Homo sapiens: one gene and its partner. The protein of the gene in region 2 interacts with the protein of the main gene of each other region in a pairwise test. Each region holds a gene or a part of one and is shown on either strand. Other genes may lie near its edges.

Evidence for each region.
Region 1: the proteins of PEX11G (region 2) and KCNJ6 interact in binary tests that used the Homo sapiens proteins (3 or more experiments, as listed by UniProt).

What each region holds. Positions count from the first base shown.
Region 1 is NC_000021.9:37,619,452-37,626,752, forward strand, and holds part of KCNJ6 (G protein-activated inward rectifier potassium channel 2), read right to left. Parts: intron 6,034-7,301; coding exon 5,708-6,033; 3' UTR 1-5,707. UniProt on the Homo sapiens protein: Inward rectifier potassium channels are characterized by a greater tendency to allow potassium to flow into the cell rather than out of it.
Region 2 is NC_000019.10:7,476,338-7,479,299, reverse strand, and holds the end of PEX11G (peroxisomal membrane protein 11C), read left to right. Parts: exon of another isoform or gene 1-923; coding exon 924-986; exon of another isoform or gene 987-1,863; coding exon 1,864-2,098; 3' UTR 2,099-2,425; downstream 2,426-2,962. UniProt on the Homo sapiens protein: Promotes membrane protrusion and elongation on the peroxisomal surface.

The DNA of each region.
Region 1 (7,301 bases), on a different chromosome or scaffold from region 2:
AAGGACCTTTTGGTTTTCCATAAGAAGCATTTAGTTCTTTAATTACACATTAAACTTCTAGCTTAGTGGCTAGAGAGAGCAAAAACTAGCGCAATTAAACATGAGCTAGTTCCAGGTTCACGTTCATCACCTTGATCAGTTGTAAACTGTAGGCTAGAGAAAACTAGCAAGAAAACAGAGGGAGACATCTGGGCCACCTATTTAACTCTCCTCCAAGAGAGCCTAAGAGAGAAGCCATGTGGAGGAGCGAGGCGGGTTTGATGTGTGGCAACCACTGCAGGTCTGGGCTGCTTTGCTGAGCAGAGACTGGCAGCCTGAGCTATGTACATCATCCAACGCCTGAGGGTGCCACTGAAGCAATATTTCAGCGGCTGGGCTGGGAATGCCCATTTCTCTGTAGTTCATTAAGGAGTAATTTTACTGTATCCACTTTCTGAGTTGACCGCTAGATCCTGGCTGGCTGTTGACTCTATTTGCCACTCTGGAGGAATGGCATGAAAAGGAAGGATTCTTCCTTTGAGACCCTAACTGAATGACTGGGCTCTCTAAGTCTTGTGAAGCAGTTGTCTCTTTGACAACCGAAAAAAAAGAGTTATGTTATTTTGAACAGACTTATGAGTGACTTCAATAATTTATGCTAGAAAAAAAGTCATTCTTCTATATTGCCTAGGACTCTCTTAAGAGTACAGTACAATATTTCATAGTACTTAGTACTCTTACATACTATTATTAATAGTACTATTACTAGTACTTAATAGTACCAATAGTACTTAACAGTACAGTACAGGGGTCAGCAAACTTTTTTTATACAGGGCCAGATAGTAAATATTTCAATCTTTGCTGGCCACACGGTCTCTGTTGTAATTACTCAGCTCTGTGAGTGCATGTGGAAGCAGCCATAGGCAATACACAGACAAATGGCTGTGGCTGTGTTCCAATAAAACTTTGTTTGTGGACATTGAAATTTGAATTTAGGATGATTTTCACATGTCTCAAAATATTCTTCTTTTCTTTTTTTTCCCCCAATTATTAAAAAATGTAAAAATTGCTCTTAGCTCACAAGTGGTACAATAACAGGCAGCAGGCCAGATTTTTTTTTTTTTAGCAGATTTGGTTTGCTGAAATTTTTTGTAGTAAAAATAGCCCACAGCTTAGGGCCCTGTGACCTGGATTTGAGACAAGGAGCTATGATTCACTGGCCTTTAAACTTGGCCAATTTGCCCAAACCCTAGTTTTCCCTCTATAAAATGTAAATTATAATACTCAACCTCTCATGGTGAATTAGAATGAAATAAGATAATTTGTACAAGTGCTCTTAATGCTCTCAAACACCACACCATGTTGGGTAAAATATTGTTGGGTTATTATTATATATTCTGTGATTTATCAAAATCTCTTAGCAGCCTTCTGACAGAATTTTGACTTCTAGATGACACTCTGCATCTAAAGCACTCAAGACATTAAAGGCAGAAATATTAGGAAGAGGCGTGCTTTACTCAATTTTAAATTAAAGGCTAACATTTTCTTAGATACCGGTTGGCCATAAAGTTCAGAAACAAGATAATGTTATTTTAGTGTATTGTAAAGTAATATCAATGAATCATCTATTATGTATATGTTACCTATGTTTTTCAATGTTAAAGCCATCCATTGAAAGGAAATCATCCTTGAAGATAATGTTTACAATATATAGAGGACACTGAACTTTCAACTACCTTCCTGACATTTTTAAATCATACAGAGTATCACCCAAGTCAAGGAAAGAAAGACTGAAGAGTAGCCAGACTATTAGCAAACTGTTTTGGAAATGATTTACTATGAGTATTTTAATTGTATTCTCTCAGCAAATCAAATGATTTCCCATTCTTCTGGTGAGTTCAGGTAGTTTTCTAATAGCATTCTTATGCCCCCTTTCTCTGTCCACCAGTTCCCACCTTTGTAAGCAGTTTCTAAATATCCCAAAGACACTGGCTTAAATCTAAATAAAAAAGCAAAGGGGAAAAAAGTAAGAAAACTGAAATGTAAGAAAATGTAGGGATGGAAAGCATAAGAATGTTGCTCTGGAGAATTCAAAATTTAGACTATTAAATGAAGTCATGAATAATTTTTAAATTGGAGTGCAGTGAAAAATAGACATTTCAGAGCCCTAGCTTGGTTAGACCTGCAAGAGAAAATTGTGCTTAAGAAATAGGTTGACATTTGCAGCTGGATTTCTGTTAGGGAACATAAGGTACTGAACTAAAACAATAGAATTGGAACTGGAGAACCAGGGAAACAGCAAAGGATGGGGATAGATGGAAGAACGGAGTGGGGGAAGAGAGAGTTCTGCCTCATGGACATAGAGGGGATATATGCTGGAACAACCAGGCTGGAAGGCCATGTTTGAAGGAACAGAAAAGTTGACATTTGCTATGTTAATGTAAAAGAGTATAGCTTACCCAGGGGACAGCTAAAACAGAAATGATTTTATTGGTTCCATAAAGTTGATTTATAAATGAATGGGTGCTCTTCCAGTTGGAGAGCACGTTGGGGTGGGTGGAGGTGAGAATCCGAGGAACTCAGCAGCCTTGTGGTGGGGGGTCATGCTTGCAGCTGAACCTGCCCTTCCATCCAGGAGCACTTTGTTCTGTCAAATTGGGGTCAACTGTGGCAAACCATAACCCTTAAATTCCAAATTCTTATCTGGCTCACGGATCCCACCATGCTTTATGGAAAAATGACTCAAATACATTAACCAAACAGACCAAAGGATCTAGTTGAGAGTGATCTTCATTAGTTATGGATACTGTTGTATTAAAAGAGACTTTTAAAAAATTCTCATTGCACTTGGTTTGCTAATGGAGTGACTGAGGGAATGAGGACTGGATATTGCGGAATAGAATGAGTGGAAATTGTGGGGTCAATTTTGTTGAGCTGTCTTAATGGAAAACACCATTCACTCACTACTCGCTGCTTAGAAAATCAGTCTCAATGAACTTTCAGTTCCAAATTTTAACAGTTGACACAAAATACACTGTTAAACTGTGTTAACAACTGTAGAAAAATAGACATGTTTGATAGGGACATTCTAGTAAAAGGTTCTTCAGGAGCATCCCCATGTAAAGATTCAGAGGCTCACATTACAAAAACGAGATTTGGTTCAAGTTCTGTCTCCAACTACATTGACAACAAAGACAGTGAGAAACAGGGAGAGACCTCACATCTGGGTGCCCGTCACAGACACAGAACTGACAGGTGCACGTGGCCAACGTGTTGTCAAGGCTCTTCGTTCAGTTGTGCTAAAGGGCAGGCAAGCAGGGATGAGGCCCTGAGCTGCTTGCTCTTCCAACCAGACACGGGGGTGTGCGCTGTCCTTTAAACCTTAGCAATGGAATTAAAAAGGCCCAGTGAGTCTTCAAGAGCTAAATTAGAAGACATTTTGCCGCCCCTATTCCATCTTGTTTTGTGCCTGCCATGGCCTGCCCTGCGACCCTGGCAAGGTTGCAGGGGAGCTCCCCAAGCCAAGAGTGCCCTTCATTAGGCTGCAGAGAGGTCAAGCCATGGCTCCTCCCCGCAGCCTCAAGGGGAGTGTATCGAGCTTCCTCCTCCCGGACCACCACCTCCTTCTTAGAGTGTGCGAAATAAAGAAATGATTCAACAGAGATTCAATGCAAAAAAGGAAATGCTGGCAAACAGGAAAGGGCTATAGCCAACAGTTTTGTTTTCCTTAAAGTCAGTGCCAAGAGGCAGTTGTCCTGATCCAAGGTCTCTGAGATGGGAGAAGAGAGGCCCCGAGGTTATATTTAGGAGCCACTTTCCTTATCCTGGGACTTCTTTTTTAGTAGACAAGGTCCCCAGACTACACCAAAGGCCTGTGCGATCAGGTCAGGGAAGGCAAGGGAAACAAAGAGGGACAGCTAGTTTGATCTCTTTGACCTCCATGGTGCAGAGCCTCAAACTGAGCACAGCTGTAGGAGCTGAAAATAAACTTGGATCCATTCAATGAATATTTATGATGGGCAACTGTGTTAAAGAACAAACAGCTTATAAATGCAAAGTGAATGTGAAAGATCTGTAACAGTGCAAAATCTCCACCTGCCCCGGAGGTTTGATCTAAGATTTGTTTCCTTATTTTTTTCATTTTAAAATTCAGATTTCCAGTACAAATACCCTTCCTTCCTTCCTTCCTTCCTCCCTCCCTTCCTCCCTTCTTTCCTTTTTGCAGATTAAAGTGAATTAAGGCTGGAATTTTTTTATTTGTTTTCTTTTGATTGACAGACACTGGATTTGATTTCTAGCCTGTGGCATACTCTAGAGACATTTCTTAGACAATCATCAAGATTGTTGATCTAATCTTTGAATACTGAACTCTGGTCATTTCAAAATAATAAAAGATCACAATGCAAGAAATGCTGATGGATAAGCCCCAGGGACAGGCGAGATGTCATTCTCAGAAAGCCAGATAGAGTCAAAGTGAGAGGTCGATGATTATAATGCATGCCACTCACTACATGCCTTTGTGAATTTCACGGCTTTAGACCCAAACCATCTTCTGCTAACTTACCATGTCTCATTGTAAGAGTGTAGAGAAACTACAGCTGGAGAATCAATGGTTTTGCAGAAAAGTTTCCTAAATTATTGTACTACAAAGGGCAAGAGCTCATGTGAAAAGTAAAAACATACCTTTGGTGACAGGCTAGAGAATATTTCCTTCCTGGTATTCCCCCTCCTCCAGGCCAGTTAGTGAGGCCCTTGTTATCTTTTAAAAAAAGACATCTGTTTTGTAACATTTCACAGTATATCAGCATATTGGTGGTGGGTTTTGCCATCTACCAGACCTCTCAATTTCCCCCAGACCTATGGCTTGTTGGATTCAATGAAAGGATCCGTGTGGGAACAGTGAGGTACCCTAACGTCTGCCAGTCTGAGACACAAACAAAGGCCATGCACTGAAGGGCCAGCCGTCAACTGGATCAAAATAACCTGGAAAACACAGACATCAAAACAGAAATGCCTACTGCATGTTAGGAATCTTTCTTTCTTTCTTTTTTTTTTTGCTTCTTATTTCTAAAGTTATATATCTAAACCTACATTAATGATACATCTATGTACAGTATTTAGCAGTTCTGTTCTATGGTACTTTTGTACATGCTGGGTTTTATTACTAATTACAAAAAGAAAATAATTACATAAGGCATATATATGTACAGTGGTTTGTCTTCAGCTCACCTGGGCCCTGTAACTGCCACACCCACATGGGGGCAAGCACCTCACCCTGTAGTAGATGAAATGAATTGGGATCCATAAAACTGAGGGCTCCACTCTGTGTCTCACTGAATGAATAAATAGGCACCAGAAACCTTGCTTGTCATATCCCAGGTAAAATCTTTGACACACCTTTTTGAGTGATCTGGTATTGTACAACACATGCAGGTAAGTAACTGAAATCTCCAGGAGTTGGATGTGTAGTATTTTGGGAGGAGACCAGGCTTGGGCCACAAATGAGGGCACTTTGCACTTTCATCAAATCCATGTCTACCTTGTCAATCTGAATAACTGAGAGAGGGCAGGTAGATATTTTACACCTTGAAGATTTGTTTTCTGGTCATGTAAAAATTAAATATAAACAAATAAAGAACAAAGCAAGAGAGACAGAAAAAGAAAGAGAATGAGAGACAAGGAAAGATTGTGTTGGGGGGAGAAGAGAAGGGTTTGCCCAGCTAGGGCACTAAACTTTGGATTCATTCTCCAGGTTTGCCACATCACCATTTCTTTCTGTTTGCTCTTCGAGGTTCTTTTCTTCCTCTTCAGTCTCCAGTTCTGCATGTTGGTTGAGTTTGCTGGATACAGACCAACTCAGGGGCAGCTCTGCCCTGCTGGCTAACTCGGCCAGCTCTTTGGCACTAAGGGATGGGGTGCTGGTCTCATAGGTCTCATGGAAGCTGTTGTAGTCAACTTCGTAGAACCCGTCCTCCAGGGTCAGGACAGGTGTGAACCGGTAACCCCACAGGATCTCACTGGTGATGTAGGAGCTTCGAGCTTGGCATGTCATCCCTGCAGAGAGAAGAATGGAGGCTTTAGCATATGTAAGTGTGGGCTTTCCATGGCCAAGGAGTCACAGAGAGCCAGGAGGAGTACTGCATGCAGCTGTTGAGACTGACCTGCATACGATGCCACACTTAGTAGGTGTCATTCATGTTGTAGACACATGCTAATGTGCCATGGAGATTCCAGGCCTCTTAAGGGAGTCCTGGGGAACAATGAGAGAGTCCTGGCCCACATCAAGCCACATTTGCCTGCATGGCCATGCACATGCAAAGGAAATCAAGTGTGCAAATGCACACAAGTTTTCGCATGTGCATGGCTATGTCTGGTCCACTCTGCTCTGGGAGAACCCTGAAGCCATGACTCTGGCCTCCTACTGCTCTTGGAGGTTTAGCCTGGGTTCTAATGGGATTTGAGCTCTTTGGCCACAGACTTAGAATGAAATTTCATATATGGAACTACACTTAGGCTGCTTTTAAGCTAGAGGCCACAGATCAGTGTTACCCTCCCACCTGCCATTAACACACAGGCCATGACTGTGGCTCCAGATGCAGTTGGAAGGGTCACCCACCTGAATTTGCACTTTACTTAGGCCCAGTGGTCATAGTTGCTCAGACTGTGCAATCATAACTACTTTAAAAGCTTTTCCCCCTTCTTTTTTTTTTTTTTCTTTGAGATGGAGTCTCGCTGTGTCGCCCAGGCTGGAGTGCAGTGGTGCGATCTCGGCTCACTGCGACCTCCACCTTCAGGATTCAAGCAATTCTCCTGTCTCAGACTTCTGAGCAGCTGGGACTACAGGTGCACACCGCCATGTCCGACTAATTTTTTTTTGTATTTTAGTAGAGACGGAGTTTCATCGTGTTGCCCAGGCTGTTTATGAACTCCTGAGCTCAGGCAATCCGCCTGCCTCAGCCTCCCAAAGTGTTGGGATTACAGGCGTGAGCCACTGCTCCTGGCCACTTTTCCCTTTTCTTAAAGATAAGAAGCCTTTTTGTAATTTGCATAAAAGCACCACGTGAGCTACCAGCAGCCCTGGAGTCAGGAAGTAGCTTTCTCTTAAATATGAAATGGCAGAATGAGGAAAAGTCCAGCCACCTCCTTGGAAAATAAAAATAGGCAACAAGTGTGGCATAAGATATGAGAAATGACACGTGTGGTTTTTTAAAATTTTTTTCTGAGGTCAAAGAAATCTTTTATACAAATTCTCAGGAAATGAAAACATTCATTCAGTCATTAATCCAGGGCTGACTTCTCCATTAGGCAAAAAGGCGTGGTGT
Region 2 (2,962 bases):
GTTGGCCAGGCTAGTCTTGAACTCCTGACCTCAGGTGATCCACCGGCCTTGGCCTCCCAAAGTCCCGGGATTACAGGTGTGAGCCATCGCGCTTGGCCCAGAGCTTCTGATTCTGTGGGTCTGGGGAGCCCAGGAATCAGTGTTTTTCCCTAGCCCCCCAGGAGGCTCCCACCTGCTGTGCCACTGGCGCTATCCTGCATCCTGCACCCTGGGTACCCAGTGGCCAGAGGAGTTGTGACCAGGCCCTGCCCATTCTGTCACAGTCACAACCCGGCACACCCCACGGCCGAGGCTGGAGAGTGCAGGTGCCTGGTGGACTGGCCCGGGTGGGTGCCATGCACGGCTGCAGAGCCTGCTGGGAGCACAGAGGCTGCCCACTGGGTAGCCCCTTCCTCAGCCTGCAGATGCCAGCCCTGGGGGCCCAGGGGATCATCCAGACAGGTCCAGCCAATGTCCGGGGTGTGTGTGCAGGGGGTGCTGGCATGGCACTGATTTGGACCTTTCCACACAGAGCAGACAAGGCAGCTGAGGCCCGGAGGGGAAACGGCGTCCCCACGCCTGTCCAACTGCGGGCCTCTTGGCATCCTTTTCTGTGTAGGACTCCCTGCCAGGCTGTGAACACCTCACGGGGCTTGATGTTCCTTTGAGCACTTGCCAGTGGTTTGCAGAGGCTGGGCCAGGCCCTGGATGGCCACGTCAGAAGTGCAGGACGATGTCCCGGGTGGGACGGGGCCGTGTTAGAGATGAGTCCCCGGGAGCATGAGGCACAGCCAGGAGGGTGTGGGACTGTGGGGGCAGGGAGAGGGCAGGCCGTTTATCCGAGATGCAGCACCTGTCCCAGACTGTATGTCCGGGGCCAGCGTTGTGGAGCTAACCCTCCTGCTCCCCGCCGGGGCATCCTCCCTCGGGCTCTGGTGCTGCAGGTCCCTGTGGATGCTGCTGAAACTGAGACAGAGGCTGCGGAGCCCCACGGCGCCCTTCACCAGGTAGGAGCCCGTGATCACCCAGCAGGGAGGCCCACTCCCTCCAGCAGGCGTGGGATCCCGGCTCGCAGCCACCCCTGTGCAGGCCCATGCTGGGGACTGTTGTGCTCAGGTCATGGGGGAGTCATCACAGCCTCTGGTGGGTGGCGGTACCTTTTACAGATGGAGAAACTGAGGCTTGCTTGAGCGGGGACTCCAGGGCTGAGCCTTCATGGCTGCGCCCCCAGCAGGAGAGAATGATCAATTTCCCGAAGGCCATGGCCATTGTTACTGTTGCTTTTTCTTTTTGTTTTTTGAGACAGGGTCTTGCTCTGTTGCCCAGGCTGGAGCACAGTGGTGCCATCTTGGCTCACTGCAGCCTCTGCCTCCTGGGCTCAACTGATCCTCCTGTTTCAGCTTCCCGAGTAGCTGGGACTACAGGCACGGGCCAGCACGCCTGGCTAATTTTGTTTTTTATTTTTTGGTGGAGATGGGGTCTCGCCATATTGGCCAGGCTTATCGTCACTGTGTCATCCTGATAAAGAAAGGCCGGGCAGGCACAGGCCACGCTCCTGGGGGTTCCCCCTTCCCTCCACACCTCCCAAAGTGCATTTGTGCTTTCTGTTTTTCACAAGGAATCCCCATCTCTGGGTGTTCAGGACGAGGAGTGAGGTGTGGATTTGAGGACTTGGACCCGGGTTCCTGCCCTGTTCGTGCTTGGGTCGGGGGGGTGATGGGGACTCAGTCTCTGTGGATGGTCAGGGAGGCCACCTCAGTCCTGCCAGCTCCTCCCACTCACAGGCAGGGGCTCAGGGCTGCCAGGCCACACAGGGCATTCAGGGGCTTGGGAAGGGCAGGCAGGTGTGAGCGTGAGTGTAAGCGGCCCCTCTCTGCCCCACAGCCCGCTGCCCCGGGGCAAGCGGAGGGCCATGGAGGCGCAGATGCAGTCGGAGGCGCTGTCACTTCTCAGCAACCTGGCCGACCTGGCCAACGCCGTGCACTGGCTGCCCCGGGGCGTGCTGTGGGCCGGCCGCTTCCCGCCGTGGCTAGTGGGCCTCATGGGCACCATCTCCTCAATCCTCAGCATGTACCAGGCGGCCCGGGCCGGCGGCCAGGCCGAGGCCACTACCCCCTGACACTGCCGGAAGAGCACAGGGACACAGCCAGAGCCCACGGAGGGCCCTTCCCGCAAAGCAGAAGCCGCCAGGGCAGGGGCCGGGGCTCTCATGGAGCTGCCTGTGGTGAAACCCATGGGCAGGGTGGGTGGAGGGACTGATGCGAGGTCCCCCAGGCCTCAGCCTGGAGCTCCTGAGCCGTGACAGTTTTCAGGGGCCGTGCAGGGCTTCAGCAGCACCTCCTGCCTGCCAGCTGGCGTCTTGTATCCAAATCAAGATGAGGAAGAGGGGGCCTGTCGTGCCTTGAGAAAGCTGGAACGGGAATCAATTAAACATTGTGGTGCTGGCGCCTGGCTCAGGGGTGAAGGTTATTACACTGCTGGCTCCTGGCCCCTTACCCTCCACAGGACGGACCCAAAGTTGGAAACCACACTACCCCAGCCCACCTTCAGGAATGCCCTCAGCCCGGTGGGTCCTCTCCATCTTTGAGCAAGCGTTGCCCACGGACCCCAAGTGGCCTCCAGCCATTGAGGGCTGTTCTCTACTCCCCAGAGTCCTGGGCACACAGGCCAGAGGCGCCACCTCTCATCAGGCCACCCGAGGGCGTGGCCTCATGCCACTGTGCTGCCGACGCAGGGCCACTGTGAGCATTTTAAGGGCTCCAGGCTGAGACTGGGCAACACACACTGGCATCGCTGAAGATACTTGGGGCTCCCACCTCAGCCAATGTGTGGTGGGATGGGATGAGGGCACTGCTTAGTCTGCTGGCTGAGAACAACCCTTCAGAGTCTGTGCACATGTGGCCTCTGGCAGACATTGTTGCACAGCCTGGCCCAGGAACACACAACAGCCAGTGTGTGTGCGCCCTTGGGCCTCATGTGATAT